Homo sapiens: one gene and its partners. The protein of the gene in region 1 purifies or fractionates together with the protein of each later gene. This does not show direct contact. Each region holds a gene or a part of one and is shown in the gene's direction. Other genes may lie near its edges. The genes, in order: KDM4C, UBA1, RNH1, PNP, EPB41, PPP2R2A and EPB41L3.

Region 1 (3,500 bases):
ATATTTGTTGGAGTTTTTGTATTGTAATAAGCTAATTCCTGTGTTCCTCTCATACTTCTCATCCTGTAAATCCTTCCTCATGGGATTCCCCCCTCCGCCAGAATCCGACTCCCTCTGCTGCTTCCTCCTCACTCATGGCACCATAGCTGTTGCCTGGATGACTGCAGCAATTGCTTCCTTCTTATTCAGGAATGTCAGCTGTAGTCACCCCCGCTAGTCAGTTCTCCAGGTGGCCATTAGAGTGATCCTTTAAAAGAAAAAAAGCTTAGGTCTTGTGACTACCTTCTTCTTAGTATTATTCCACCTATAATAAAAGAAAAAGTCTTCACATAGTCCTAAACTGGTCCTCAGCTGCTACTCCAGCCTCATTGCCTTTGCTCTTGAAATAGCTGTGTGGATAGAGTTTAAACCACAGAACTTTTAAAAAATGAGTTCATGTTTTAGTGGAGAGCTAGGCAAATAACCACATAATTACAATCCAATGTGGTAAGTAGCATTATAGAGATTGCATAGGATGTTGCTGGTTTACCAAGGAAGGACTTCAAACACACAAGAGCTGGATAGCCAAGGTTTCTTGGCAAAGGTGATATCTGAATTGAGTTTTGATGAATGGATATAAGATAGCAAGGCAGAGAAGGTAGGGAAGGGAATTACAACAAATGCAGAATAGAGAGTTAGGCAATACATATGGATATTTCACTATAGTCCCTTTTTTTAAAATTTTTAAATTTTTTTTGAGACAGAGTCTCTCTCTGTCGCCCAGGCTGGAGTGCCGTGGCACAATCATAGCTCCCTGCAACCTCTGCCTCTCAGGTTCAAGCGATTTTTTTGCCTCAGCCTCCTGAGTATCTGGGACTAAAGGTGTGCACCACTATGCCTAACTAATTTTTATATTTTTAGTAGAGCTGGGGTTTCGCCGTGTTGGCCAGGCTGATCTTGAACTTCTGGCCTCAAGTGATCCACCTGCCTTGGCCTCCCAAAGTGCTGGGATTACACACGTGAGCCACCGTGCCCGGCTCCTCATCATGCTTTCTCTTACACTGTGTTTAATTAGCCAGTTTATGAATTGCTGGATGGTTTTGCCTAAGGGCCCTGAATTTCATTAGTTCTGTCACTACATGGTTCTTTGCACATTGATCTCCAGATTTTGAGCCCTGGCATAATACTTGAGTAGAAGAACTGGGTTGTTCAGTATCAGAGCTAGTATGTGATGGGTACAAATGAGGTTTGTTTTGTGTGTGTGCATGTATGTGCATGCGCATGCGTGTGTATGTGTGTGTAAGATACAGAATCATTTGGGAATAGTTTACCAATTCTACTTAGTAGTAATACAGTGCATGATTTATTAACAGTCTTCTGTTTTATCCTCAGGAAACAGCTGCTTAAGTACATCTGTAACAGAAGACATAAAAACTGAGGATGACAAAGCTTATGCATATAGAAGTGTACCTTCTATATCCAGTGAGGCTGATGATTCCATTCCATTGTCTAGTGGCTATGAGAAGCCCGAGAAATCAGACCCATCCGAGCTTTCATGGCCAAAGTCACCTGAGTCATGCTCATCAGTGGCAGAGAGTAATGGTGTGTTAACAGAGGGAGAAGAGAGTGATGTGGAGAGCCATGGGAATGGCCTTGAACCTGGGGAAATCCCAGCGGTCCCCAGTGGAGAGAGAAATAGCTTCAAAGTCCCCAGTGTATGTGGCAATATCCATTTTTTACCATATTCATTATATGGTGAGAGCACATTTTGAAAACAACATGCTGTGCACTGAAATCCTCCTTTAGGGCACAGATAAATAACATTTTACATTTATGGGTCTTAATCATATTCATTCAATAACTGGGAGGTAAGCCTCCTGTGAGCTGTGGCTCACATAGTGATAATTTAGCACATGGAGCTTATGGCCACGTGTCGATGCTTGATTTTCTTTTTTTTGTTAAAAAATTAAACTCTTTACTTTGAGGTAATTGTAGACTCGTATGCAGTTGTGGGAAATAGTGCACAGTGATTCTTTGTACCCTTTACTCAGTTTCTCCCAATGCTACCATCTTAGAAAACTATAGTACAAAGTCACAATCATATCGACATTGATACAGTAAAGATTACAGAATTGTTCTGTCACCTGCAGAAGAATTCATCTGCTGGGCACTGATCACTTTCTGCCAATAGTTAATACCTCCTGGTCCCAGCCTTCCCACAGCTTCTATTTCAGTGTCAGGACTCACGTGGTCATGCTTTCTTCTTACTCTTTCCTCATGGACCCTGAATCTCAGGACCAGGGTGACCTTTCTTGTCCTGCCCCCTCCTCGAAAGAGGCCCTTTGCCTCTGAGAAAAGACTCCTCTATATTATTTAGCTTCCCATTGTGACTTTTTGGAAAATTGTACAATATTGTCCTTGTACAGTATTAATATTCCATATTCAGTAGAAACTGTCCATGTAGCCATAAGAGTGGATCAGGGGAGCTAGGACTGTCTGTAGCGATTGTCAGAATTCAGTACTTTTTTTTGATGTATCCAGCCTGATTAGGGAATTCAGGTGGATCAGGAAGGAGTAATTGTTTGAGCTGATAGGTTGCGCTGGCTGCAGAACAGACACTGCTCCTGCTGGTTTCAACTCAAAATAGATCCTTGTGTCCCTGAGTAGGAGCAAGGGAGGTTGTATAAGGACAGCAGCTTTGAATACCTTGCGTCTTATCAGTCTTAAAATGTTAATTAAAATATACTTTTCTGATTTGACCCAATAGTGTTTATCTTTTTATGTAGAATTGTATATCTCATTGAATTATAAACACATCAAAAATATGAAAGATAAAAAAAATATGGTCTGGTTTCTTTGAAAAGGTGCCTAAGAGTAGTTTGAAAATAGCATTCACATACTAATAAGCAAAATTTACAACTTTGGCCAAATGTGGTGGCTTATTTCTGTAATCCCTGCACTTTGAGAGACTGTGGTGGGAGGATCCCCTCGAGCCCAGAGGTTCGAGATGAGCCTGGACAACATGGTCACACCCTGTGTCTACAAAAAAAAAATAAAAAAAAATTTAGTGGTGTGTGCCTGTGGTCCTAGCTACTAGGGAGGCTAAGGTAGGAGGATCACTCGAGCTCAGGAATTCAAGGCTGCAGTGAGCTGTGATCCCACCACTGCACTCTAGCCTGGGTGACAGAGTGAGAGACCCTGTCTCTTAAAAAAAAAAAAAAAAAAAAAAAAAAGGAAAAAAAATTTGCAACTTAATTTCATGAATGGCTTAAATGTAGCCAAGCAGATATTCATTCTTTGGACAGGTGACTGAGTCAAATGCCTGCTTTAGTTATTTTTAGCGACCTTCTTTAAAGTAGAATGGAGCTGAAAGTAATTCTCAGATTTCTTTGCTCTCAAGGAAGGTGATTATAGATCTAGTGCTGTTTATCTTCATCTTTATCATTTCCCCAAGCAAAGACTGACAGTAGAGAAACCAACATTGCTATTGAAGGCTGAGAGGCTTGGCTTGCCTGTAAGAA
Region 2 (3,500 bases), on another chromosome or scaffold:
AATGACAAGGCAAGGAGATAACTAAGTAATAGAGGCCACTACACGTGCCCAGGGAGGAACTCACATCCTCAGGTCAGTGAGTTCTGACCACAGACCTTGGCTTCTTTAACCCTGCCAGCAGCCCCTTGAAGACAGTTTCATTTGTCCCAGCTTTTGGAGAAAATGAGGCTCAGAGGAAATGAGATCTCTACCCCAGGTCAGTCAGAGAGTCAGTAAATGGAAAATATGGTTCACCTTTGTCTCTACTAACTCACCAAGCCTCTTGCTACCCAGGTTGGCTCTTAGCATTCTAAGCAATTCACCTGGCTATCTCAGGGGCTCCAGCCAGCCTGCTGCCTCCCCTCATCTCCCATTCCTTAGCCCTGTGGACTGGGCCCTGAGCCCAGGGGCATTTGGCAAACAGTCCCCCACCAGCTGCATGCCTCTGGGCGAGTGAATGGGGTTCTCTAAGCCTTTCTTTTCCCATTTGTGATTTGGGCATAGGGTTATCTGGGTCATGGGGATTGTTAAGATTAGACAAAGCCCTTTCCTCTTTGATTGACACACAGTATGCTCTTGGTAGATAGTAGGGAGCTCTTGTCATTGTGGTTGGTGCTAGTGACAAGTGCCAAGATGGAATCTTAGGTACATTGGGATACTTAGTGTCATAAAAGTCTCAGTGTGGGAGGACTTGTGTGAACAGAAGACTCAGTGCCTAGAGGAGCACTTGGGGTGAGGGGAAGTGACGCTGGGTCCTCCCATCTCCAGCATGTGGACCCAGTCACCCCCACCACCAGATTTCACTTCCACAGCAGGCTTTATTGTTCTGTCTCTGGGACCTAGCAGGTGACCCTGGGCAAGTTACTTCTCATTTGTCCGGCAAGGACACTAAACTCTGCCTTGCTGGGTCAGGGTCATGGAGGGGATGAAACGTGATAACACGAGGAAGCAGCCTGGGCTTCAGAGTCAGCAGATCCTGGTCTGGTCCCAGCTCAGTGTGTGGGAACCTTGGTCACCGAACGTCCCTGAGTGAATTTTTTTCCATCACTTTAAAGTTGGGGGTATTATTGATAGCAGTCCAAACCCCACAGGAGTACCCTGAGGACAGAGTGAGACGAGGTTTAGAGAAGTGCTTACTATGGCATCTGGCACAAGGAGGACTCCTGATCAATCTAATACTCATTTATCATTGTGGTTAACCTGTTTAAGGGACTCCGCATGCAGATGAGGCTTGGGATGTGTTTGTTTTCTATCTTTTTGCAACCTCTTTTATTGGTCTGTGTCGGTTTTCCCCTCCCAAAGCTGGGGGCAGGGTTGGGCTTTATAAAACTTGAGCCCCTCTGGGGACTGGGTTCTCAGCAAGTTACCGCTCCTGCCATCATGCCACCCTGATGGATGTCCAAGCCTCACTTCCCTCCTGCACTCCCCGCTCCCGCCGCCATCCCTGGGATTAAGGGAGAGGAGAATGGCTGCTTGTTACTGCCTACCTACTCTGTGCCAGGTTCTATGCTCTGTGTTATTTATCATCTCGATAACCCCGTGGGGAAGGTAAGTGGTATTATCACCCCTGTTTCACAGGTGAGAAAACTGAGGCCTGTGGCGGTTAATTATTACTGTTAGTGCGTGGCAGGCTCAAGATTTGAAACCAGGTCTGTCCTGAATCCACATCCTTCCCCTGACCTCGACACAAGTACATTCTTGTCATTCCTTTCACTCCAGGATTGGAGTCTCTCCCTCATTATGCTGGGCTGGGAAGAAGCAAATGGCTTAGTGGTCAGCAGTGTGGATTTGCAAATCAGACCACCTGGGTTCAGATCTTAGGTCTGACAGCTGTGTTACCCTGGGCAAGTCCTCACCTTTCTGTGCCTGTCCCCTCTTTGCTGTAAAATGGGGGTACTAATACTTAAGTCTTCCCTTCCCCCACAGTTGCTACTAACAAACAGAAAAACGGTACCCATGTGCTCCAGGGTCACCTCTGACCTTTTTTTCCTCCAGATGTCCAGCTCGCCGCTGTCCAAGAAACGTCGCGTGTCCGGGCCTGATCCAAAGCCGGGTTCTAACTGCTCCCCTGCCCAGTCCGTGTTGTCCGAAGTGCCCTCGGTGCCAACCAACGTGAGTGTCCTCTCCGTGGAGACTGGCAGACGAGGTGGTGGGTGGGAAAGTCTTTTGTATCACTGTCTGTCTATCCATGCTCCACTCCTGTGTGTCTCCCTAAACTTGTTCTTTTCCTCTATTCCTAGGGAATGGCCAAGAACGGCAGTGAAGCAGACATAGACGAGGGCCTTTACTCCCGGCAGCTGTAAGTGGGGCCAAGGCCGGGCTGAGGGGTGTGGAATGGGACATTGAGAGGATAAGGTTGGGTGGGGCAGGCCCTGACCTAGAGTACCCCCTAACCTGGCAGGTATGTGTTGGGCCATGAGGCAATGAAGCGGCTCCAGACATCCAGTGTCCTGGTATCAGGCCTGCGGGGCCTGGGCGTGGAGATCGCTAAGAACATCATCCTTGGTGGGGTCAAGGCTGTTACCCTACATGACCAGGGCACTGCCCAGTGGGCTGATCTTTCCTCCCAGGTACCTCTTCCTAGCACCCTTCCCCCTTTCCCCCTTCCCGAGGCACCACTGTTCCCGGTGCCACAGCCATTTCATCTTTTTCCCTACTGCACACCCTTACAGTTCTACCTGCGGGAGGAGGACATCGGTAAAAACCGGGCCGAGGTATCACAGCCCCGCCTCGCTGAGCTCAACAGCTATGTGCCTGTCACTGCCTACACTGGACCCCTCGTTGAGGACTTCCTTAGTGGTTTCCAGGTATCTTGGGGGTACTACCCAGCCTTCTGCCCAGTTTTCTCAGAGCCCATCTCTGGTTTATTCAGTAGTGTTCAATATTGATTTAATGGGTCGGCCTGAATGTCAGGTTTTGTGCTGGGGGACTAGAGTATGCAGGCAGCAGTTAGCCCCTGGCCCTGCCTTTTCTTTTCTTCTTTTTTTTTTTTTGAGACGGAGTCTTGCTCTGTCGCCCAAGCTAGAGTGCAGTGGCGCGATCTCGGCTCACTGCAAGCTACACCTCCTGGGTTCACGCCATTCTCCTGCCTCAGCCTCCCGAGTAGCTGGGACTACAGGCGCCTGCCACCACGCCCGGCTAATTTTTTTTTGTATTTTTAGTAGAGACGGGGTTTCACTGTGTTAGCCAGGGTGGTCTCGATCTCCTGACCTTGTGATCCGCCCGCCTCCGCCTCCCAAAGTGCTGGGATTACAGGTGTGAGCCACCGCACCCGGCCTGGCCCCGCCTTTTCAAGTGGGGAAGATGTGTACAGACAGTACAGCATAGTGGTTGTGGGCACAGACTGTAGAGCCATACTGCCTTGCTGCAGGCCTCCAGCCTTGGTAGTGTGACTTCAAGCAGGTTGTTTCATCTCCTGTACCTTTGTTTTCCTGTTTGTAGTCAGTGCGTGGTAGCAGCACTGACTTCATGGACTTTTTGTGAGGGTTAAACACGTGGAATTGCAGCTGGCATATAAGGAC
Region 3 (3,228 bases), on another chromosome or scaffold:
CCGTGTGTGAGCACATGGGCGAGAGTACGTGAGCACATGGGTGAGAGTGAGCACGAGTGTCCGTGTGTGAGCACATGGGTGAGAGTGAGCATGAGTGTCCATGTGAGTGTGAGCACATGGGCGAGTGAGCACGTGAGTGTGGCACATGGGCGAGAGTGAGCACGAGTGTCCATGTGAGTGTGAGCACATGGGCGAGAGTGAGGGTGCATGTTCATGTACTGGGAAAGGCGGGCTGGCGGCACCACTCTGGCTTAGTTCTCATTTTAACTCTGAAAGTCAGAGGTCATGTTTCATGAAGCCTGAGAGCTTCACGGAGCTCCAGCCTACCTGGCCACCCTGTGGTCCATCTTCCTGGAAGCCCCGCCCACCTTTCTCCCTTGCGGGAACCCCGCCTGTGTCAGGATGTTTTTCCAGATTTGTTTTCTTTGTTAAAGCACGTTCTTTTGCAGCTTTCTAAGAAAAGGTTTTGCAGGAGGTAATTTTTGGGGTCTTGTGCCCCTGTTCTGTCCTTGGATCATTTAGCCGGGTATAGCATGCACCATTATGCCCGGCTAATTTTATTTTGTTTGTTTTTTTGAGAGAGTCTTGCTCTGTCGCCCAGGCTGGAGTGCAGTGGTGCGATCTTGGCTCACTGCAAGCTCCGCCTCCCAAGTTCATGCCATTCTCCTGTCTCAACCTCCCGAGTAGCTGGGACCACAGGCGCCCGTCACCACACCAGGCTAATTTTTTGTACTTTTAGTAGAGATGGGGTTTCACCGTGTTAGCCAGTATGGTCTTGATATCCTGACCTCGTGATCCGCCTGCCTCGGCCTCCTAAATTGCTGGGATTACAGGCGTGAGCCACCACGCCTGGCCTAATTTTTGTATTTTTAGTAGAGATGGGGTTTCACCATGTTGGGCAGGCTGGTCTTGAACTATTGACCTCAAGTGATGAGCCTGCCTCAGCCTCCCAAAGTGCTGCGATTACAGGCGTGAGCCACTGTGACCTTGTGTGCACGATCTGCTTTTTCTCGTTGGCAGCTTTTCAAGCTCTCTTTGTTCACTGTGTTAGGGGTTCCATGTGCTTGGCCTTGATGGGGGTCTTGGTTCTTTGTGCTGGATACTTGGTTCTACTAAGAAAATATACCTTTGGTGATTTTTTTCTCTCTCCTTTCTTATGTTTCTTTTTTGGTGTGCCCATGAGCCTGTCCTGATGTCTTGTGGAGTGACCCTCTAATTATGTTCTCCAAATTTTCTTTTCGATGTTTTGTTTTATTTTTGGGAGATGTTCTCATTTACCAGCCAGTCTACTGAATTTCCACCCTCAGTGTTTTGTCTTTTGTTTGCTGTTTCCCGTGTGCCTCTCGCCAGGGGCTTTCCGTGGGTGGCTGGTCATCCTGGGCTGGGCACCAGGTGCAGAGTGAGGCCCGGGAGCCCTGGACAGTGAGCCCTGCAGGCCGAGTCATGGCTGCGTTTCTCGAGGGCTTCCTCCTGATGGGGGATTTTCAGTTCCCTGCCAGGGGACACCATCCTGGCTGCCAGGACCTTGTGGGTGTTCCAGATGTGGAGAGGAACCTTGGGTCCTGGTCACTGCAGACTTGTTCCCCCTGAGCCACTCACAGGGTGGGGGTCCTGCAGCTTCCCTGGCCCCCACCTTGGAGAGGTCCAGTGCAACTCCTTGGCCCTGCTGTCCGGCCTGTGGCGGCTCCACCCCGGGAAGTGGGTGTTGGGTCTTCTCTATCCCATCCTCTTTTGTCTGACCCGTTCTCTTGTCTCTCTCTGGAGCCTAAAGTCTGTTGTCCACTCTGTTCTTGTCTTGGTACCCTCCATACCCTCGTTTCCCCACAGCTGCTCCTCAGTCTCTGGCTGGCTTCTCCTTTGAAGCCCACGCAGCCAGACGGTGTCGAGGTGACAAGGGGGTGGGTGTGGCTCTCTGGGTGGACGACATCTCTCTCCTGTCCTTTCTCCTCCCTGCAGAAGATCTCAGGCGAGTGAGGCTGCTTGTGCCTCGCTTGTCTGTGCCTTCCTTGTCCGTGGTGGGGAACCTGCCCAGGGCCACAGGGACGGTGAGCCTTGGGGACGGCCCCACCTGAGGGTCCTGAGTTGCCGAGCACAGGTGTCCGTCGCGCCCCCCAGGCCCAGGCCTGCTCTGCCGGTCAGTGCGGTGCCAGGCACGCCCGGCACCCTGACCCCCGCCCTGCTTCACCCAGGTTGGCCGACTGCGATGTGAGTGACAGCAGCTGCAGCAGCCTCGCCGCAACCCTGTTGGCCAACCACAGCCTGCGTGAGCTGGACCTCAGCAACAACTGCCTGGGGGACGCCGGCATCCTGCAGCTGGTGGAGAGCGTCCGGCAGCCGGGCTGCCTCCTGGAGCAGCTGGTGTATGTGCACGCGCTGGGCGGGTGGTGCGGCCAGGGCTGCCCAGGGAGGAAGGCGGGGGTGGGGGAGGACACGGGCCCATGCCTCCCTTCTGGCCTGTGTGCAGCCTGTACGACATTTACTGGTCTGAGGAGATGGAGGACCGGCTGCAGGCCCTGGAGAAGGACAAGCCATCCCTGAGGGTCATCTCCTGAGGCTCTTCCTGCTGCTGCTCTCCCTGGACGACCGGCCTCGAGGCAACCCTGGGGCCCACCAGCCCCTGCCATGCTCTCACCCTGCATATCCTAGGTTTGAAGAGAAACGCTCAGATCCGCTTATTTCTGCCAGTATATTTTGGACACTTTATAATCATTAAAGCACTTTCTTGGCAGGAGAGGCTCTTGTCCTTCCTGGGGTCCTTGCGAGGCGCTGGCATTGGAGACGACACCACCCCACTTGGCTTCTCTCCCTGCCTAAGGGACCCCGCACCAGGGAAGCAGCCCAAGGCCCTGGCTGTGCTCAGCTGGGTCCCCTGAGCTGCACCCACCCACACTGGGGAGCACAGGGCAGGCCCTGCCCAGGGTGGAGGGATGCCCCTTGGCTCTGTTGCCCGTGCAGGGTGACGCCTGCTGGGAGCTGCCTGCAGGCCCAGCTGCTCCCGCAGCTTCCACCCCGGAGCCTCAGGAGCCCCCAGCACTGCCCTGACTGCCCCCCAGCCCAGCCCAGCCCAGCCCAGCCCAGCCCAGCCCAGCCCAGCGCGGCCCAGCGCGGCCCGGGTTCCTGCCCGGAGCCCAGTGCTCGCCCCAGCTCTGTGTGGGATGATGGGGCAGCCCATCTTGCCCACGGGTGGACAGCTGACCAAGGTGGGCCAGCCCGGGGTGCCCTGCCCTG
Region 4 (2,592 bases), on another chromosome or scaffold:
GTCTGACTGATAAATTAACTCAGGCCCAGATCTTTGACTACGGTGAAATCCCCAACTTTCCCCGAAGTACAGGTACTGGCAAGGGAAAGTGGGGAATGGGACTGAGGGATGTTCTTGGAATTCTGTGGAACACAACCAAGGAGGCCAATGTTTCTACTCCTTGACCTAGCATTTCACTGAAGACAAATGTTGTAAGAGAGGAGAAAAGCCCACCATGAGTCAGAGTGACTTTAGGAGATGCCTCTAGCAGACATCCCATAAGAGACAGGACATGTGTGTGTCAGTGGACTGAGGCTAAGACTCAGAAGAGGGCCAGGTGACAGGGGCCAAGTAAAGGGCAAGGGTTGTTTATTTGGTTTACGTAATTTCTCAAATAACTAACTTCTGTTGGTTTATTTATTAATTTTTAAGATTTCTATCTTCTTTTCCCTGGAGAGTTAAGAATTTTTTTTTAAGACCTGTCAGCAGGAAAAGACCTTTAATAGCTATTTTTTTAAACTCTTTAACACAAGACTGGAAGAGCAGAGGGAGAAGGTGAGGGAAATATTAACAGAGGGTGTGTGAAGGGCATACTTCTCTAAGGGAGATAGTAGTGACGCTGGCTCCACTGGCCACTCCTACCCCCAGTGAGAAGGGCACTGCATTAAATGATAAGTGGGTTAGTTTTTTTAAGCTTATCAACATGTTTATTTTTTATACTCCACTTGGGTTTCCTTTGTCAACTTTATTACTGTTTTTGTTTTGTTTTTTTGCATAAGCTCCTCTATCTTTGAGAATTTCTCAGCTCTTCCTCTTGGTTCTAGTCCCTCTCCCATTCCCTAAGGGATAGGTTGGCCGTCTATTAGAAGTGACTGCCAGATAAAAGAAATGGTAATAATGGCTGTTATGTCTGTGGGGAGTTATCTTTGCACTCCCACGCACCCCTCCGTGGGCATGTGTTCCCATAGGACTGTTCCGTGGGTCATAAGGAAAGAGACACTTGCATGCGTTCAAATTCTTTCCCCCTTGTTCAGTAGCCTCTTCTTTAAGAAGCCAGAGTAAGTATACTATGAGCTTGCTTGCTGGACTGAGGAGGCAGGTAATTAAGTTAGGGCAATAGATAAGAATACATGTTTTGAGAACTTTGAAAAATTTGAAGAGGTCTATAATTACTGCATTCACTGTACTCACTTTATTTTGAAACAGAGTCTCGCTCTGTCACCCAGGCTCGAGTGTAGTGTTGTGATCTCGGCTCACTGCAACCTCCACCTCCCAAGTTCAAGAGATTCTCCCACCTCAGCCTCCCGAGTAGCTGGGATTACAGGCATGTGCCACCACACCTGGCTAATTTTTGTATTTTTAGTAGAGATGAGGTTTCACCATGTTGGCCAGGGTGGTCTTGAACTCCTGGCCTGTTGATCCGCCTGTCTTGGGCTCCCGAAGTGCTGGGACTACAGGTGTGAGACACCGCACCTGGCCTATTTTTAATTTTAATTTTTATAGATTTACAGGGGTACAATGCAGTTTTGTTATATGGATATACTGCGTGGTGGTGACGTCTGTGCTTTAGTGTAACCATCACCTGAGCAGTGAACATTGTACTTATTAGGTAATTTCTCATCCCTCATCCCCATCCCACTTTCTCACCTTTCCGAGTCCCCAGTGTCTATTATTTCACTCTGTAGGTCCATATGTACACATTTGGTTCCCACTTATAAGTGAGAACATGTAGTATTTAATCTTCCATTTCTGAGTATCTACTTTTTTTGCTCACTTTTTACTCTCTGGCAGTATGGCTTGTATTATCTTGAAATTTCTTTAAAAAGCCCTTCCTTCTTTGTGTGTTCATGCTGAACATGCTGAACGCACCCCATATCTCTAATCTTGGGTTGTATTTGTATAATTATTAGTAATGCCTGGCTCTCTCACCAGACTTAAACTTTCTGAAAGCAGAGATAATAATGAGTCTTTTACTTAATTACAACCTAACATTTTGAGCAGAGCGAGTAACTCACAGTAGGTGCTTAATGGATATGTGTTGCATGAAAATATAATCCCATTCATTTCTCTTTCTGTTTTGTATACAGTGCCAGGTCATGCTGGCCGACTGGTGTTTGGGTTCCTGAATGGCAGGGCCTGTGTGATGATGCAGGGCAGGTTCCACATGTATGAAGGGTACCCACTCTGGAAGGTAAGTCAGAGGGATAGGTCCGGTTGGATCTGGAAGAGGCAGGAGAGAACTATCTAGCCTCTTTCACTACCTAGCTATCTGGGCTAGGTGGATTTTTGGTCCTCTCCTTCCTTTTCTTTCACGATGTATGTCATGCATTTCAGTGTAGCTGAATTAATGAAATTTTGTAAATTTTTTTCGGATTGTTTGCTTCGAAGGTGACATTCCCAGTGAGGGTTTTCCACCTTCTGGGTGTGGACACCCTGGTAGTCACCAATGCAGCAGGAGGGCTGAACCCCAAGTTTGAGGTTGGAGATATCATGCTGATCCGTGACCATATCAACCTACCTGGTTTCAGTGGTCAGAACCCTCTCAGAGGGCCCAATGATGAAAGGTATGTATGTTACTCCGTTTTTTTTAGGTGGGTAGGATTTAAAGACTTC
Region 5 (3,500 bases), on another chromosome or scaffold:
AGGAGATAATTGGTGTGAACAGAAGCTGAAAGCTTCTAATGGAGACACTCCTACACATGAAGACTTGACCAAGAACAAGGAGCGGACATCAGAAAGCAGAGGACTTTCACGACTATTCTCCTCGTTTCTCAAAAGGCCCAAATCTCAGGTGTCCGAGGAAGAAGGCAAAGAAGTAGAGTCAGATAAAGAAAAAGGTGAAGGAGGTCAGAAAGAGATAGAATTTGGAACCAGTCTTGATGAAGAGATCATTTTAAAGGCCCCAATTGCAGCTCCTGAACCGGAACTCAAAACAGACCCATCTTTGGATCTTCATTCATTAAGCAGTGCAGAAACACAGGTAAGGATGTGTGGATATGGGAGGTGGGCAAAGGAAGGCAGGTTATACACTTTATTTTTCATTTAAGAGTATTTGGGCTGGGCGCGGTGGCTCATGCCTGTAATTCCACCACTTTGGGAGGCCGAGGCAGGCGGATCAACTGAGGTCAGGAGTTCGAGACCAGCCTGGCCAACATGGCCAAACCCTGTCTCTACTAAAAGTACAAAAATTAGCCGGGCCTGATGGCGGGTGCCTGTAATCCCAGCTACTCAGGAGGCTGAGACAGGAGAAGTTGAACTCGGGAGGCGGAGGCTGCAGTGAGCTGAGATCGTGCCACTGCATTCCAGCCTAGGCAACAAGGATGAGATTCCGTCTCAACAACGGGGGGATAAAAAAAGTACTTGGTTTTATTTCTTACTAGCTAGTTGACTTAGGCATTGATAGTGATAAGTAGCATCATAAAGCTTTATAGTTTCTACTCTATTTTTTTTTTGAGACTGAGTCTTGCTCTGTCACCCAGGCTGGAGTGCAGTGGTGTGATCTCGGCCCACTGCAACCTCCCCGTCCTGGGTTCAAGCTATTCTTCTGCCTCAGCCTCCCGAGTAGCTGGGATTACAGGCGCTGGCCACCATGCCCAGCTAATTTTTGTATTTTTAGTAGAGACAGCGTTTTGCTGTGTTGGCCAGGCTGGTCACAAACTCTTGACCTCAGGTAATCTGTCCACCTCAGCCTCCCAAAGTGCTGGGACTACAGACGTGAGCCACCATGCCCGGCTTATAGTTTCTACTCTAAAAAAATTAATGTAGTCATTGGAAACTTACTTTTTAAACAGTTACTTACACTTTATATGTATTAAAGGGTCTTGCTATTTTGCCCAGGCTAATCTCAAACTCCTGGGCTCAAGTGATCCTCCCACCTCAGCCTCCTGAGCAGCTGGCATTACAGGTGTGTACCACCATGCCTGTCCATTTACTGTTTATAAATCAAAGAATAGTAGAGAAAAAAAAAGTATCAAATCAATGTGTTCAGCCCATATATCATTTTATTATAATAATGGAACAAATTGAAGATTTCTCATGAGAGAGGAAAAGAAAGATGAGATGGTTTAGAGTTCATTTTTGTGGAATTATTAGGAACAGGACGGTTATCAGCAGATGTGGTTCTTTTACGTAAATCTTCCTAAAAGCTGTGTGATGAATTCAAGCCCTTTGAAGGTATGTGATAGATTCAAGTCATGTCTACCTTATTTTGATCATCTTCTTTAACTAGAGCATATTGCCACAGAGTGTAAGATACAGATGAGGAAGTCTAGCTCTTTCTATCACCTGTGTAATGTATATTAGTCTGGGGCCTTAATTGTGACATAGTGTTGTTAAACTAAACACGAGTTGTGAGTTTATTTGTCCCAAAAAATGGGAAAACATTAGTACTGTAACTCAGACTATTTTCTGAGAATGTCATTTATTTTCAGCCTCACCATTACAATTAAGAATTATTTTCAGAGTCTTCTTATTTCTGAAGCATGTGAATATTATCTGCATCGTTAAAAGTGTAAGTCCTTCTAGAACTCTGACAGTGTTGGGGGGAAAAAAGTAAAAGTCCTACATGTTTCTATTATAGGTCTGAGATTTGGACTCCATAGTTTTATTAGAGTCTTATTAGAATATTACATGTATTTCTAGAACTATTACTTGTATATTCAAAGTGCTGAGGGTAAAATTTAGGATAAAATTATAATTGCACACTTGCTGTTAGTGAAACAAGGTTGAAAACAAGATTTACTATGTTCTGTAATAGTTAAGATGCAAGCTATAGAATCCGACTAGAGGGTTCAAATCGAAGAAAAGTGACACTTTTCACTTTATCAGTTTCCTCCTCTGTACAATGGGGATAATAATATCCACCTCATTTGGGATTGAAAGGATTAAAAGAGTGAAACCGGTAAAAGCTCTTAAAACATTGCCTGGCATTTAATAAATACTCAATGAATGTTAGCTAGTAAATAAACACAAACAGTAAAGGCAAAGAAACCATTCATATCTTAATAACATTTTATTTTAGGAATACCAAAAGAATTAAATTACATTATCGGCCGGGCGCAGTGGCTCACACCTGTAATCCTAGCACTCTAGGAGGCTGAGGCAGGCGAATCACAAGGTCAGGAGTTTGAGACCATCCTGGCCAACATGGTGAAACCCTGTCTCTACAAAAAATACAAAAAATTAGCTGGGCGTGGTGGCGGGCACCTGTAGTCCCAGCTACTCGGAAGGCGAGGCAGGAAAATTTGCTGAGAGCCGAGATCACGCCACTGCACTCCAGCCTGGGTGACAGTGCGAGATTCCATCTCAAAAAAAAAAAAAAAAAATTACATTATCTTTCAGGAAGCCTGGTACTTTCAAGAGTTTTTCAAATTTCCTTCCTTCCTTCCTTCCTTCCTTCCTTCCTTCCTTCCCTCCCTCCCTCCCTCCCTCCCTTCCTCTCTTCCTCTGCCTCCCTCCTTTCCCCTCCCTCCCTCCTTCCCCCTCTTTATTTATTTTCTTTTTTTCTTTCTTTCTTGACAGGGTCTCTCTCTGTCACCCAGACTAGAATACAGTGGTGTGATCATGGCTCACTACAGCCTCAACCTCCCGGGCTCAAGCTATCCTCCCATCTCAGTCTCCTGAGTAGTTGGGACTACAGGTGCATGCCACATGCCCAGCTAATTTTTAAATTTTTTGGTAGAGACGGTCTTGCTTTGTTGCCTAGGCTGGTCTTGAACTCCTGAACTCGAGCAATCCTTCTGCCTCAGCCTTCCAGAATGCTGGGATTACAGGCATGACCACTGTGCCTGGCCTCAAGGGGTTTTTAACTGCTTTTTTCTCCTTCAGCTTTATATAGGGGAAAATCCATATCTTGTTTTAGTTAACATTTGAATCAGAACTTGTCTGCATTGTCTAAAGTTCATAGATTCGTACTCAAGTTGACACAGATGATGGACAGTTAATTTTAGATTTAACTAAAATCTCATTCATTAAGATTTAATTCCGAATTGAAATAAATTGTCCGTAGGTTATTTGTCTTCATGTGGAGAAAAAGAAACGATATTGTTAGTAAAATTTCAAGGAGATATTATTTAAAAGAACAAACTATTTTAGGCCTTTTGGAAACTAATATTTATAGTCAAAACCTTGTGGATCAGAGTCGT
Region 6 (3,500 bases), on another chromosome or scaffold:
ATTTTAATTCTCTTTCTCTTTAATCTTCTTTTGCTCCTCTGAATTCTCATTAATTCCTCTACATTGCAGAAAACATGAAACTGACCTGTCAACCATGAGTGTTACATATATGAATAATGTAAAGTTCACTCATAAATAGGGTGTGTCTTAACAACTTCTTGATAAGTTTTTTAGGGTCTTACATAAAGCTGCATTCCCACAAAGGAAACGGCAGCGTGGTTTTCCCTGCTCATACCTCTCATACCTTCTGCTTGTGGTGAGAGGAACTCTGTTCTTCTGCAGTTTCTCCAATGCTTTAGTTATTAGTGTTGATAATTCAGGGGAACACCACAGTGTGGTCGTTTTGGAAGGAACAGATCTTGAGAATCTAATAACGTCTCCACTGAAAACTGTGTTTTTACATAATCTCACATACAGTTTTATGGAGTTTGATTATTCTCACATACTTTGTCTTATGGGCCAAAAACTCCAGGTAATAAAATATCACTGCTGTAGAACATAAGGATTCTGATTTTTTAAAAATTTATGTCATATTTATTAACATACTGATTTATTTCCTGCCTGCCTTGTCCCCACCTTACTGAAAAATGTATCCTAATTCATATGTGTCCTGTGTTTGTGTTAAGGAAAAAACATTTTTTAAAGAGCTTTCTTCCTGTAAACACTATTAGGCACCACAAACTAATTTTATCTCATCTGAAAGTTTCATAAATACATTGTGGTTTCTTTATTTGGATCTTTAATAAGGAGGATGGATTTAAACAGGCCACAAGACAACTGGACCAGGGGGCGGGGGTGTTGTCATCCTCATCACAAATACTTTGCAAGTATTTAGAACAAATACTTCTCAGAATACAGATTTAGGCTAGGCTCATATCTATCTATAAATCATATACATATATAAACTAAATAACACATAGAAAATCTGTATGACTGAACTACAAGAAAATTATAAGCAAGGTCACATAGGGCTTAGAAGAAATAATAGATTACAGATGATTAAAGTTAGCAGTTTTTCTCTGTTTACACTTCATCATTGGGAAGGGCATCCTTAGGGGCAACTATCATTCTTCTGTACGATACAGAGACTGCCAGGCTAGAGTCACTGGCATCTCTCTGAGTTGTTTCTGTTTTTATAAAATGGCTTTATATACTGTTATAAACAATTTTGTTACACCATTTTGCTTATGAAAGATCGTTAGGAATGTATGCTTTTCTATAAGAAAAACTGTTATACAATTGTAACAGTTTTAAATCAACATGCATGAGCCTATAGTGATACAAATAAACAATTGAATGGATACATGGAGAGCAGGGATGCTTCCTGCAGGAGAATTCTAAATAAGACGTGGATACATACTCTTCCCTACAGGGAGTATAACTTATTTCTCCCTTTAAGTACAGGCTGGATTTAGTGACTCACTTCCAAAGAACAGAATATGGCAAGGGTGAAAGAGTCATTGTATAGTGGAGAAGCCTGGCAAACATTGTCTTAACCAAATGACCCAAGTTAACGCCACCAGCTGTAAGTCATGTTGATACCATGTATCCCTTTGAACAATGCTGTGAGAAGTCACTTCATCTCTCTGTTCTGTTCCTAAAAACCCATGGTCCCAGTCTGATCATGAGGAAAGAGCAAGCAAATCCAGTTGAGGGATATTCTACAAAGTACCTCACCACCACTACTCAAAACTGTCAAGATCAAGAAAAATAAGGAGAGCCTGAGAAACTTAAAGGCAGAGAGACTAAGGAAACTTGATGACTAAATGCAGTGTTGTTTGAATTCTGGAGCAGAAAAGGAATGTTAGTGGAAAACCTGGTTAAATCTCCAAATGCAGTCTGTAGTTAATAGTAATATACAAAGTCGACGTCTTAGTTTTGACACACGTACCATGGTTGCGTAAGATGTTGACAGAAGAAACTGGGTAAAGGATATATGGAACACTGCAATTCTTGTAACTTTCTGTAAATCTAAACTTAATTGTAAAACAAAAGTTTGTTTTTAAACAGATGCCATTTTATATATCCTTGATACCTAGGAATTTGGTTTCTTCTTGAAGGACTTGGGGATGTATGCTTTTAATCAGTTTTCTTCAGGCCCTGTTTCCTACTTGTGAACCCTGATACAAGAAGGGGAAAGGTTTTAAAAAGGAGGCATCCAGTCCTATGGAGGCCTCTGTGGAATCTTTGATAGGCTCTGCTAAGAAGTGGGAGCAAGGGAGAGCAGCTTTACTATTTTGATTCTACATAATAGGCAGTCTTAATCAACTTCATTGTTCCCTTTAAATTTTTTAAAATTCAGTACTGAACATGTATATGTTTACATGTAGGTACAGACATATATGTGTTTGCATACACCACACATGCATATCAAGTTTTTCCCTCTAGCTTTAATTACTTTTAAGGGACAGGGATAGAGACCTGTCTGTGACTTGATTTGACTATCACATGGAATTTATGAGTGCCACCAATCTTTGCACTTTATTTCCATGTGTGTATGTTATTCAGCTGATAATAGGAAATTTTTTAGTAAGTTCAGATTAGGGTTTTTTTTTTTTTCGTGGAATCCTTTTACGTGAAATGTGAAATAGCATATTTTAAATGCCTTAAAATGTTTTTCTTCTTCAGTATTTTAAGGACTTTTCTTTATTTTCTTCCCAGATAAAACAATAAAATTATGGAAAATCAGTGAAAGGGACAAAAGACCAGAAGGGTATAACTTGAAAGAGGAGGATGGAAGGTATAGAGATCCTACTACAGTTACTACACTACGAGTAAGTACATAAGAAAAAAATGTCACAGATAGTGCTTGTATTCATATTATATAGCCCAAATCCTGAGCAGAGCTTGAATAGGAATAATTACAGTCTATCTCCCCTTTCCCAGTAATTCTGTAATCAGGTAGGACATTGAGTAACTCATTTAAACATAGAAACTGACCTACATAGAGGTCTCACTTTGGCCAGGGACAGAAGCAGGACTCAAGCACAAGACAGTATTTCACGCCATCAGACTTCATCTCTGGTTTGTCATGTTAGCTATCACAAGGTCAAGTTTCAAGATAAATTTTCTTTGGAAATCAAAAAAGTAGATACAGATCAAATCTTCTAGTTGTAGCTAAAAAATACCAAGAATTAGATGTTATGGGTTAATTTTCTTTTTAGCCTCTTTAATCTGAACCATAAACATTTATTAGCTTGGCATGTCTTTCAAGCAAAATATTGAAACTAAGAACTGCAAATTCTAATAGTATTGCAACCAGTAAAAGAAGATATATTATCCACATTGTTCATTTTTTCTTCAGCACTCGAAAGGATCAACATCAGTTGCTTTTTAAAACTAAATCTATGTAATATTGTTCTATTTTATGTTCTCAAAAACTGAAATAATGAAGTTTTCTGAATCTTAATTGCTATTTGAAACTGAGCCTTTTGTAATTTCTGTTTTTCATGTGTCTTATTGACAGGTGCCAGTCTTTAGGCCTATGGATCTAATGGTTG
Region 7 (3,500 bases), on another chromosome or scaffold:
GGAGACAGATGGTCTTTAGTTAATGGAGTTATCCAAAATTTTGCAGAAATTGAATGTGATGTTTTTTTCTCTCAATGATTGATATTTTGGCAATTCATTCCATCTTTTTGTGGGAGTATTTAACTGAGGATTAAATACTACTTTTGGATTGTTTAAGGTAGAAAATGAGATATACGAAATATGGGAAGATTTTCCTTATCCTTTCAATGAATGTATCTCAGTTATTTGAGATATTAAAAATAATACATTCTCACTTTAAAATATAGTCTAACAATACAGAAAAACCAAAAAAGGCAATGTCATTATCTACCTTTCTGAATGTATTACGTATCAGAGTGGAATAGGACACACCTGGGTTGGGCTCTCGGCCTTGCTATTTAATAACTATGTGGCATGGTTCTTTTAACTTCCTAGAGCCTGTTTGCTCGTTTATAAAATGGGCATAATGCTTATATCTGAAGGATATGAGGATTAAATGATGTAATACATGCAAACACTGAGCACAGTATCTGGTATATCACAAGTGCTTCATAAATAGCAGTAGCATCATTTTGTACATATACAGACTCATATGTAGATTACATAATATTTTACATGAATAGACTTCTGTCTTAAATACTTCTATGTAACCATTTTTTGTTTGTTTGTTTCGTTTGTTTGTTTTTTGAGAACAGAGTCTCACTCTGTTGCCCAGGCTGGAGTGCAGTGGCACGATATCAGCTCACAGCAACCTCTGCCTCCCGGGTTCAAGTGAGCCTCCCAGGTTCAAGCGAGTCTCCTGCCTCAGCCTCCCAAGTAGCTGGGATTATAGGCAACCGCCACCCTGCCCAGCTATTTTTTTTTTTTTTGAATTTTTAGTAGACATGGGGTTTTACCACGTTGGCAAGGCTGGTCTCGAATGATCCTGACCTCAAATGATCTGCCCGCCTTGGCCTCCCAAAGTGCTGGGATTACAGGTGTGAGCCACCGCACCAGGCCAAATTTTTTTTTTTTTTAAATGTAACAGTATGTCTCGGAGGAGCTTTTTCATGCATGCAAATCTATACCCACATCATTATTTTTAATGGTAAATAAATATTTTCTTTTGGTCTTGTGCAATATTGATAAAGGATCATTACCTTAATGATGGTGTTGATGTGAAGCCTTGTTGTCCAGCCCCTCTGCCTCCTTCTGCTTGCTGCCTACACTTCATGACTCTCTTCTAATATACACATCAGGAGGCTTGTGGTAAAACAGGATATTTAAAAAAATTAAAATCTCTGATGATTATTATGTATATCTCAATGTTGTGTGTGAATATTGAGTTCTAACAAACTAAAACAAGCAAATTTTCACCATAGATTTCCTGACTTTTTTAAATTTAGATTTTAATGTCATCTCTTTATAGAGGGGCGAGCTCATCCAGCAAAGCCTAACCTGAGTTCCTGGGTGCCCATCATTCTCCCATGTGCCTCTTGGCATGCCTCGAGGGACAGCAGATGCAGCAGTCTGGACCTGAACTAGACTCTCCAGAATCAAAATATCCAGGGTCTGGGATAGTTTAGTAGGTGTACGGGGTCACTGGGCTCCCAGAGATGGAAAATATTAAGCTTCCTTTGATCTCTCTCTGAGTTCCCAACCCTTCCTTCGTCCTCAACAACAGAATGGTAACAAATGTCATATTCCATTCACAGATTTTATGCCACCTCGTCAGGGATGTGGGCTGCTCTGTTATGTTATTCACAATCCCATGATTTTGACTGATCTTGGATTTACTTGGAATCCAGTCTTCATTCACCAATTTGGGGAGAATAGCTTTATGATCCTGAAGGTGGTGCTAGCTGGAATGGTGCACCCAGGCTTCTGTGAGATGATGCCATCGGGGCATCTAGAGGTCTCAGGCTGGCCCGGACAGTTGCATATTTCTACGTAATTTTTTCCTAGAGTTACTAACATCCCAGAGATATAGGGAGTTTTGGGTAGTTTCATTACAGAGAATTATTCTTGATGAATTTTGGTGTTTTATACCATTTTGTGCTACTCAGTGACAACTTTTATTAACTTTAGAAGGAATATGCTTACTGGCTAAGTATAAGACTTGGAAAATAGAGATTGACTAGGTTGTCTGCTCAAGAAGTCTGGAAAACTTTTCCTCTGAATTCTTGAAATGAGAGCAGTAATTCATTGGGGGGAGTTATATTGTAGAACAGGGGTCCCCAACCTTTTTAGCACCAAGGACCTCCATTTTGCTTACCTCCTGCTGTGTGGCCCTGTCCTTGGCACAGAGGTTGGGGTTTCATGGAAGACAGTTTTTCCATGGACGGGGGTTGTGGGGGATGGTTTCAGGAAGAAACTGTTCCACTTCACATCATCAGATTCTCAGAAGGAATGCACAACCTAGATCCCTCACGTGTGCGGTTCACATTCTCACATTCTCACTCAAGAATGTGAATCAAATGCCACTTCTGATCTGACAGGAGGCGGAGATCAGGTGGTAATGCTGACTCACCCACCGCTCACCACCACTGTCCTTGGCCCAGTGGTGGGGAATCCTTGTTGCAGAATAAAGAAAATACAAAGAGCTAGAGAAGATACAGATGGAAACATCTGCTAACCTTGAGCTAGGTAACTGTGGGAGGAGTACTCTATTTCTCTAGGCAAGGTTCCCCAGAGTGAACAGATGACGATGCTGCCTACCTCCAGGTTGAAATGAGATCTGTGTTTGAAGACATCTAGAACCAGTCTAATGAGAGTATACACATAGTACATGTTTTCTCATTTCAGTAGTATATGCTGTTGTCCTCTTTGCTTGTTTTTAGGGACATGTCTTAGTAATTGTAAGATCCAAAGATGACCCTCAGGATGAGTGTAGAATTTTGTGACATTCCACCACAAAACCCGTAATCCAAAAGATGGCCCTCTATGAGAATGCAGAATTTTTTGAGTATGAAACTCCAGATAACAGTAGAGGTTTGCAAAGAATGAGACACAGTGGTTATACAACAGAATTACCTGATGAGTTTATTAAAAAGGAATTTTTGGGGACCAATCCACGGATTATCATCTAATAGATCTGCAGTTGGATCCAGACCTCCTTATGTCCCGACAAGTACTTTGGTGAAATCTGATCCAGGTGGTCCCAGGACCACATTTTGAGACACACTGTCTTAACGACTTTTGTCTTAATGACTTTCCAGCTTCTTCACTATTGTCAAATGAGCGTTTAACCTGGAAAGAAGATATAATATAAATAAATAGTACTAAGGTTGAAGAAAATGTTTAGCATAGAGCAAAGAAACCTGGCCTTGGACTCAGAATGCTTGGGTTTCTTTTTTTCTTTCTTTTTTCTTTTTTTTGAGACGGAGTCTCGCTCTGTCACCCAGGCTGGAGTGCAGTGGCGAGATCTCGGCTCACTGCCAGCTCCGCCTCCCAGGTTCATGCCATTCTCCTGCCTCAGACTCCCAAGGAGCTGGGACTACAGGCGCCCGCCACCACGCCTTGCTAATTTTTTGTATTTTAGT

Evidence for each region.
Region 2: the proteins of KDM4C (region 1) and UBA1 purify together in Homo sapiens (affinity purification with mass spectrometry, with the first as the bait; one study listed by BioGRID). This does not show direct contact.
Region 3: the proteins of KDM4C (region 1) and RNH1 purify together in Homo sapiens (affinity purification with mass spectrometry, with the first as the bait; one study listed by BioGRID). This does not show direct contact.
Region 4: the proteins of KDM4C (region 1) and PNP purify together in Homo sapiens (affinity purification with mass spectrometry; one large-scale study listed by BioGRID and IntAct). This does not show direct contact.
Region 5: the proteins of KDM4C (region 1) and EPB41 purify together in Homo sapiens (affinity purification with mass spectrometry; one large-scale study listed by BioGRID and IntAct). This does not show direct contact.
Region 6: the proteins of KDM4C (region 1) and PPP2R2A purify together in Homo sapiens (affinity purification with mass spectrometry, with the first as the bait; one study listed by BioGRID). This does not show direct contact.
Region 7: the proteins of KDM4C (region 1) and EPB41L3 purify together in Homo sapiens (affinity purification with mass spectrometry; one large-scale study listed by BioGRID and IntAct). This does not show direct contact.

The regions. Positions count from the first base shown.
Region 1 is NC_000009.12:6,984,973-6,988,472, forward strand, and holds part of KDM4C (lysine-specific demethylase 4C), read left to right. Parts: intron 1-1,352; exon of another isoform or gene 1,353-1,371; coding exon 1,372-1,694; intron 1,695-3,500.
Region 2 is NC_000023.11:47,196,829-47,200,328, forward strand, and holds part of UBA1 (ubiquitin-like modifier-activating enzyme 1), read left to right. Parts: exon of another isoform or gene 1-162; coding exon of another isoform or gene 163-196; exon of another isoform or gene 197-1,374; coding exon of another isoform or gene 1,375-1,527; intron 1,528-1,562; exon of another isoform or gene 1,563-1,628; intron 1,629-1,974; coding exon 1,975-2,091; intron 2,092-2,219; coding exon 2,220-2,278; intron 2,279-2,380; coding exon 2,381-2,549; intron 2,550-2,651; coding exon 2,652-2,786; intron 2,787-3,500. UniProt on the Homo sapiens protein: Catalyzes the first step in ubiquitin conjugation to mark cellular proteins for degradation through the ubiquitin-proteasome system.
Region 3 is NC_000011.10:494,015-497,242, reverse strand, and holds the end of RNH1 (ribonuclease inhibitor), read left to right. Parts: intron 1-2,189; coding exon 2,190-2,360; intron 2,361-2,464; coding exon 2,465-2,552; 3' UTR 2,553-2,728; downstream 2,729-3,228. UniProt on the Homo sapiens protein: Ribonuclease inhibitor which inhibits RNASE1, RNASE2 and angiogenin (ANG). May play a role in redox homeostasis. Required to inhibit the cytotoxic tRNA ribonuclease activity of ANG in the cytoplasm in absence of stress.
Region 4 is NC_000014.9:20,472,406-20,474,997, forward strand, and holds part of PNP (purine nucleoside phosphorylase), read left to right. Parts: coding exon 1-72; intron 73-2,066; coding exon 2,067-2,170; intron 2,171-2,367; coding exon 2,368-2,543; intron 2,544-2,592. UniProt on the Homo sapiens protein: Catalyzes the phosphorolytic breakdown of the N-glycosidic bond in the beta-(deoxy)ribonucleoside molecules, with the formation of the corresponding free purine bases and pentose-1-phosphate.
Region 5 is NC_000001.11:28,987,569-28,991,068, forward strand, and holds part of EPB41 (protein 4.1), read left to right. Parts: coding exon 1-337; intron 338-1,787; exon of another isoform or gene 1,788-1,867; intron 1,868-3,500. UniProt on the Homo sapiens protein: Protein 4.1 is a major structural element of the erythrocyte membrane skeleton. It plays a key role in regulating membrane physical properties of mechanical stability and deformability by stabilizing spectrin-actin interaction. Recruits DLG1 to membranes.
Region 6 is NC_000008.11:26,357,508-26,361,007, forward strand, and holds part of PPP2R2A (serine/threonine-protein phosphatase 2A 55 kDa regulatory subunit B alpha isoform), read left to right. Parts: intron 1-2,661; coding exon 2,662-2,774; intron 2,775-3,466; coding exon 3,467-3,500. UniProt on the Homo sapiens protein: Substrate-recognition subunit of protein phosphatase 2A (PP2A) that plays a key role in cell cycle by controlling mitosis entry and exit. Involved in chromosome clustering during late mitosis by mediating dephosphorylation of MKI67.
Region 7 is NC_000018.10:5,533,998-5,537,497, reverse strand, and holds part of EPB41L3 (band 4.1-like protein 3), read left to right. Parts: intron 1-3,500. UniProt on the Homo sapiens protein: Tumor suppressor that inhibits cell proliferation and promotes apoptosis. Modulates the activity of protein arginine N-methyltransferases, including PRMT3 and PRMT5.